Homo sapiens: one gene and its partner. The protein of the gene in region 1 purifies or fractionates together with the protein of each later gene. This does not show direct contact. Each region holds a gene or a part of one and is shown in the gene's direction. Other genes may lie near its edges.

Region 1 (3,925 bases):
AGGAGAGTGGATCTTAAATGGTCTCCCCACAAAAATGACAAGTATGTGAGGTGACAGATATGTTAATGAGCTTGATTTAATCACTTCACAAAGTATACATGTATCTAAACTTTGCATTGTATACCATAAGTATAATTTTTTGTCAATTAACAAAACTGGGGGACAATAAAAAAGGAAAAAAATACCCAGTTGGAATCCTGGGATTGGAACTTGATTGAGAGGCCAGAGCTGGATATACACACTGTATCCAAAGAGCGGTTATAGCTGAGATTGGAAATGGATTAGATTGGCAAAGATGACAGAGGAAAATTGGAAGATTCAATAGAGGGTTGAAAATCATGAGAGTATAGTTTCACACAAATTAGGGAAGGGAAACTGTTTCAAGGAGGGATTAGTAAACACTTCAAACTTGTGCAGAGAAGTTTGGAGGATAAGGACCGTATAAAGGCCAGTGGTGGGAAAGAACTATCAGCGGCCCAGTGTTACTTTTAAATAGCAAGAAGCGTTCATGCATTTTAACTTTTCCAGCTTGCCCTACAGTGTAGGTGAGAAGGAGTCAAAATAGCTGGCAGTAATCCTAAAATTATTCTGATGTTTTCAGCCATAAGTTTAAATTTGATGCAGAAAAGAATAGGGAGGGGTCAGTGGAAGATTACTAGGAACTGACAGAAATGATCACCATAGAAATGTCTTTATCCTTATTCTTGGGTTTGTCTCATTCTAATGAATAGTTTATAAATGCTTCATTTGAATCTATAGAAATGATTCAAATAATCTGTTTGTTTTTGTTGCTGTTGTTATTCGGTGAAAATAACTTCTAAATTTGAATTTGGGACTACTGACGTTTTCAGTTTCTGCAAAGTTACTGAGCCCAGATTGTCCGCTGTTCTTAAACCTTATAACAATGCTGAATGGTAGTTACGGATAATTATTTTATTAGTGAGGAAATTGAGACTCAGGGAGTTAAGTCCTTTGGCTAAGGTCACCTAACTAATTATTGCTAGAGCCTGAATTTGAACATAGAATCTTATAGCTCAAAAAACCTCTATTAATGGACCTGCATCAAAGTTTGTTACTATCAAGAGATCAAAAGTTGTTTGATGGGCATGGTGGTTCATGCTTGTAATCCGAGGACTTTGGGAGGCTGAGGTGGGAGGATTGCTTGAGACCAGGAGTTTGAGACCTGCCTGGGTAACACATTGAGACACCATCTATTTATGTCTGTTTCAGAGATCACTTAAAGTTGTCCTCAAGGAATTTCAAACAATTTATTAGTGGCTGCCATATAGCAAGCGCTTATGTTCGGTGCCAGCAATGTGGCAGGTCTATATGACAAAATCTATTCTGCTCTTATGGAGTTTATGCATTCTGGTATATTCTCTACAGGTATAAACACTGAAAAGGCTTAGCGGTTTCTTCAGAGATGAAGAAAGGAGATGACGTAGAAAAATATATCAGTTTCACAAACTGAGGGTTGCTGTGAGGGACTTACTAAAAAACTGAAAGCAGTGCAGGCCTCAGCTGTAGGCAGTGAGCAGTGCTTATTGCTTCATGAACTAAGCGACTTCAGCTCCTTTACTTCCCTAAATCTTTCTTATGTACTCCTTTCTTCTGAAATGTTAAGATTTCCCTTGACAAAAAAAGGACAAATCCTAGTTCCCCCGCCTGCTGTTCCCGAAGGTGTATTGTGTTACACAGGCTGGGACGGCAGTATCCCCAAGGAGTTGAGGAATAAAAAGCTTTGGGAATCATTTGCTTGCACTGACCTTTATTTCTCAGATAGGTAGATGCTGTTGCAATTCATTGTTACCTACCCTGCCACTGGGAACATTAAAATAAGTAGATGAGTGAGACATTTTATCCCTGGATTGTCATTTGTCTGTAATCTTTAAAAAAATCAGTCCATTGGCTGGGCGTGGTGGCTCACGCCTGTAATCCTAGCATTTTGGGAGGCCGAGGCGGGTGGATCACGAGGTCAGGAGATCGAGACCATCCCAGCTAACACGGTGAAACCCCGTCTCTACTAAAAATACAAAAAATTAGCAGGGCGTGGTGACGGGCACCTGTAGTCCCAGCTACTCGGGAGGCTGAGGCAGGGGAATGGCATGAACCCAGGAGGCGGAGCTTGCAGTGAGCCGAGATCTCGCCACTGCACCCCAGCCTGGGTGACAGAGCAAGACTCTGTCTAAAAAAAAAAAAAATCAGTCCCATTGTCTGGTTTGACTTGTATTTCACATCTGTGCATATGCTTTTGAATGGAAAACACTGATGTTAATGAAAAGAAGGCTAAAGAATAGAATTCACTAGGATACACTGTATGTTAGTCCTTTTTCACACTGCTGATACAGACACACCCGAGACTGGGAAGAAAAAGAGGTTTAATTGGACTTACAGTTCTGTGTGTGGCTGTGGAGGCCCCAGAATCATGGCAGGAGGCGAAAGGCACTTATTACGTGGTGGCGGCAAGAGAAAATGAGAGACATGCAAAAGCAGAAACCCCTGATAAAACCATCAGATCTCATGAGATTTATTCACTACCATGAGAACAGTATTGGGGAAACCACCTCCATGATTCAAATTATCTCCCACTGGGTCCTTCCCACAACATGTGGAAATTATGGGAGTACGACTCAAGATGAGATTGGGTGGGGACACAGCCAAACCATATCACACTGTTGTCTGATCTGGCATGGCAGATCCTGGTTTAACTGATTAATGTTTAAGAGGTGGATCTTACAGGTCTGTTCTACTTGATCAGTGACATTGAACGCCACTGATCACTCTTCTTTCTTGAAGCTGCCTTCCTCCTTAATTTCAAGACAGCATTTTCTTCTGTCTTTCTAGCTGTTCTTTCTCAGTCTCTTCTTCTGGTTCTTTTCCCTTTGCCTTACAATATTGATTCTGTCTTTACCCTTTTTTCTTACTCTGAAATACTACATAACATTTCTCATTCAGTCCTCAAGCTTAAACCCTGTCTGCATCAGTGAGTCTGTATTCTTCAGAATCATCTATGGAGCTTTTTTTTTTTTTTTAAATAGAGATTTCTAGGTCCCAGCCAAGACCTACTGAATCAGAATTTCCAGGCATGGGACCGGGCATATATATATATGTAAGTCTCATCGATTATTCTGAAGCATCTGCCCCTGAGGAAGTACCAGTGGTAGGATACTCATGGCTCCCATGTCTGTTCTAACCCCCACTTTTTTCCTGAGCTCCAAACAAGTATGTCCAGCTGGTTTTTAGACATACCTCCAAATAATTATGCCCAACTGGTTTTTAGACATATCTCTAAACAAGTATGTCCAACTGGTTTTTAGACATATCTCTTTGAGTTTACTATAGGAATCTTAAGTTCCAAGTTCCCTGTGTGGAAACCAAAGTCCTTATTTTCCTCACCAGGACTAATTTTTCTGTTGCCTATATTGCAGTTTTTGGCTTTTGAGTGTCCCGTACTAAAAATGTGTGAGTCACCCACATTTCCTTTTGTTAGTTTCTGAATCTCATTCCTGTGCTCATTCCTGGCCTCAGTTCAGGCCACCATCATATCTCCCCTGAATTACATCCAATGTCCCAGTTAAGCCTTTGTTTTCCCTGTTCTGGTCATTTAAGTCATTTCTGATTGTAAGTCATGTTCAGGTTATGTCAGGGAAAAGAGATTTGTTTATTGTAGGATTATCTTCTAGGTAAAGAAAACTTCTCAGCAGTTACACAGTCAGAACAGGGGCAGCAACTGTAGGGGTCATGATTTAATAGGGAGCATTCTCACTGGCCACTGTGGTAGTGCATAGCTACCTCATGGGCTACAGCCAGCTCGGAGATAGTGATCTCAACTCAGGAGTTAATTTCCAAGTCTTATGAGTTGTGGCTTGAGTGGTGATAGCAAACAGTGGTGACCTGTTCTTAAAGAATTACTTAGAGCATTCTT
Region 2 (3,925 bases), on another chromosome or scaffold:
GTATATAGCCAGTAATGGGATGGCTGGGTCAAATGGTATTTCTAGTTCTAGATCCCTGAGGAATCGCCACACTGACTTCCACAATGGTTGAACTAGTTTACAGTCCCACCAGCAGTGTAAAAGTGTTCCTATTTCTCCACATCCTCTCCAGCACCTGTTTCCTGACTTTTTAATGATTGCCATTCTAACTGGTGTGAGATGGTATCTCCTTGTGGTTTTGATTTGCATTTCTCTGATGGCCAGTGATGATGAGCATTTTTTCATGTGTTTTTTGGCTGCATAAATGTCTTCTTTTGAGAAGTGTCTGTTCATATCCTTCGCCCACTTTTTGATGTGGTTGTTTGTTTTTTTTTTTTTTGTAAATTTGTTTGAGTTCATTGTAGATTCTGGGTATTAGCTCTTTGTCAGATGAGTAGGTTGCGAAAATTTTCTCCCATTTTGTAGGTTGCCTGTTCACTCTGATGGTAGTTTCTTTTGCTGTGCAGAAGCTCTTTAGTTTAATTAGATCCCATTTGTCAGTTTTGTCTTTTGTTGCCATTGCTTTTGGTGTTTTAGACATGAAGTCCTTGCCCATGCCTATGTCCTGAATGGTATTGCCTAGGTTTTCTTCTAGGGTTTTTATGGTTTTAGGTCTAACATTTAAGTCTTTAATCCATCTTGAATTAATTTTTGTATAAGGTGTAAGGAAGGGATCCAGTTTCAGCTTTCTACATATGGCTAGCCAGTTTTCCCATGATGTATAACACTTCTAATGTGATGTGTTAGATTGATAGAAGGAATGGAAACATTGAAATCTGCCATGACTGGTATTCATTTTCTCTGTTAGCTTTCATTGAGAAAATGAGTAAGGATTCTGCCTGCTTCAAGATTGGTATAGTAGGACCAGAAGAGATTCTGCAAGTCTGTCTAAACTTTTAAACTTGCTTCTTTGTCTTCTTGTTAATCAGGAAGCCCAGAACCTCATGGCCCTCACCAATGTGGACACCCCATTGAAAGGTGGACTTAATACCCCATTGCATGAGAGTGACTTCTCAGGTGTAACTCCACAGCGACAAGTTGTACAGACTCCAAACACAGTTCTCTCTACTCCATTCAGGTATTGTAAATGAACACGTTTTTATTTTAGAAAAACTTGAATTCAAGGACTTAGCATATTTGCTTTAGTAATGTTTACGGAGAATGACTACTTATTGTGTTGGATTTTCCTCTTTGATTTCTTCTTCATAGTAATAAATAATAGTGTCCAGGAAATGGTTAAATACTGTGGAGTGCCTCCCCCCCTTTCTTTAAGATGGAGTCTCGCTCTGTTACCCAGGCTGGAGTGCAGTAGCGCGATCTCAGCTTACGGAACCCCTCTGCCTCCCGGGTTCAAGCGATTCTCGTGCCTCAGCCTTCTGAGTAGCTGGGATTACAGACATCCGCCACCATGCCTGTCTAATTGGAGTGTTCTTTTGCAAAGCTTCGGATCCTATCACGTTATTTTTGAATACTTTGTATTTGATTTTAGAGTAGATTGATTCATTTTTAATGATTACTTTGTGAATTTTATTATGTAATCCTTTTATGTATGTATTACTATTGCTTTCCCTCCAGCATTTTATTATGAAAATTTCAGGCATTTAGAAAGGTTGAAAGAATGTGTGGAAGTTATCAGTATTGAAATGGAGTCATTTATGTTACATTTTAATGAAAAAGGAACCCTCATGCGCGTATGCCTATGACAGAAATTATTGCAGGGACCTTCTGAAAACCACACAAATTCCAGATAAGTTGCTTCTGTGAAGACATTGCCCTACCAACAGCCAGTACAGGTTGAGCATCCCAAATCTGAAAATCCAGAATGCTCCAAAATCCAAACTTTTTTTTTTTTTTTTGAGACGGACTTTTGCTTTTCTTGCCCAGGCTGGAGTGCAGTGGCGCGAACTCGGCTCATCACAACCTCCGCCTCCTAGGTTCAAGCAATTCTTCTGCCTTGGCCTCCCGAGTAGCTGGGATTACAGGCATGCGCCGCCATGCCTGGCTAATTTTGTATTTTTAGTAGAGACAGGGTTTCTCAGTGATGGTCAGGCTGGTCTCGAACTCCTGACCTCAGGTAATCCACCCGCCTTGGCCTCCCATAGTGCTGGTATTACAGGTGTGAGCCACTGCGCCTGGCCAAAATCCAAACTTTTTGAGCACCAACATGACACTCAAAGGAAACGCTCATTGAAACGTTTCAGATTTTGAATTTCCTGATTTGGCATGCTCAACCAGTAAGTATAATGCAGTTATCCCCAAATCTGAAAAAATCCCATATCTAAAACTCTTCTGGTCCCACATTTCAGATAAGGGATACTCTTATCTATACCGGCAATGAAAACAAATGCCACCTCCTGTGATAAGTCCCTGTAACCAATGGTCTTTGTTTCAGAACAGTTTGCGTAGACTCCTCCCTTGTATCTTTAAAAACTTCTCCTTGCCCCAGCACCCTCAGTTGTACCTATGGTCTGTCATAGCACACATATCCCACACTGTAATCCCTTGCCGTTCCCGAATAAACTCTTTGTTTTGGAGACCCGGTCTCTCACCCATTTAAGTTGACAAATGGTAAAGTGAACATCCATATACCCACCACTTAGATTCTAAGATCGTTAATATTTTACTATATTTGCTTTATCACATATCCATCCACCAATCCATCATAATTTTTAATGCATTTCGAAGTAACTTGCAGGTAGCAGTTTGTTTGATCCCAAAACACTTCCACATGCGTTAACTAGAATTCAGTATTTCTTTATAACTCTTGCTTAGTTTTAAGCTGCTGTTTTTTAAGAAGAATCTTTAAAATACAAATGTTATGGAAGCATGTAGTAGGAAAATGGAATTGGAACTTACAATGGTTGGAAATATTTGGGGTTTACTTTGAATTTTAAGTGTTAAGATATGTCTTCCTACTGGTTATTTAGTAGAGAAAGCACTTCAGGCTATTACACATATCATGACAGCAGAACCAAGAAGCATTGGCAGCCAGTCTTAAACATTTAACACTTCTTGAGAGTCTTGTAAGAGAGCATAATCCCTCATTTCCTATGTTTAGTCGGCTCTCTGTATCTGAGGATTCCACATCTGTGAATTCAACCAACTGTGGATAAAAAATATTCCAAAAAACTCAAACAGTACAACAATAACAAATAACACAAATAAAAATACAATGTACCAACTATTTATATAGCATTTACATTGTATTAGGTATTATAAGTAACCTAGAGATGATTTAAAGTACATGGGAGGATGTGCATACGTTATATGCAAATACGATGCCGTTTTATATCAGGGAGTTGAGTATCTGCAGGGAGTTGAGTATTGGTCCTGGAACCAATCCCCGGTGGATACTTAGGGACAACTGTATGTCTTGTCTCTCACCTAGATTGTAAAATCCTTGGGGGTGGGAACCATGTCTTATGTGATAACACCTTACCTATCAGGAATAGCTGTCTGGCAGCATCACCGTTCTGCAACACACCAATATACAGGAAATAGGCAACCAGGAAAAAAAAAGACTTTGAATAATTAAAATATAGGTTGCTGCAAAATCTGTGGATCTTATTCCTAGGAGAATCTCTTAGGCCTCACTCAGGAACTTACTCATGTTTAGATGTGATTTCAAAAGTGTGGTGTTTGGTTTCCAAACAAAATGTAAAAGGAGGAACTATTTAATAAAGTGTGTACATTTGTAATAATGACAGTGATAGTGATGTGAGAACCAACAGCTTGATAGGGAGGGAGGAGACAAATATACACAAAACTCAAAGAGTCATCTGGGGTCATTGAGTGTGGTGGCCCACCTCCCTGCCCACTGCATGTTCTTAGTCGCCCTAATGTGCCAAGAAAAGGTTGAAATAATGTTTAGTGGACGTAGTTTAGGAAGGCAAGAAAATATCAAATG

What was found.
Region 2: the proteins of DDX47 (region 1) and CDC5L purify together in Homo sapiens (affinity purification with mass spectrometry; 2 studies listed by BioGRID and IntAct, with this or other methods). This does not show direct contact.

The regions. Positions count from the first base shown.
Region 1 is NC_000012.12:12,816,333-12,820,257, forward strand, and holds part of DDX47 (probable ATP-dependent RNA helicase DDX47), read left to right. Parts: intron 1-3,925. UniProt on the Homo sapiens protein: Required for efficient ribosome biogenesis. May have a role in mRNA splicing. Involved in apoptosis.
Region 2 is NC_000006.12:44,418,502-44,422,426, forward strand, and holds part of CDC5L (cell division cycle 5-like protein), read left to right. Parts: intron 1-947; coding exon 948-1,096; intron 1,097-3,925.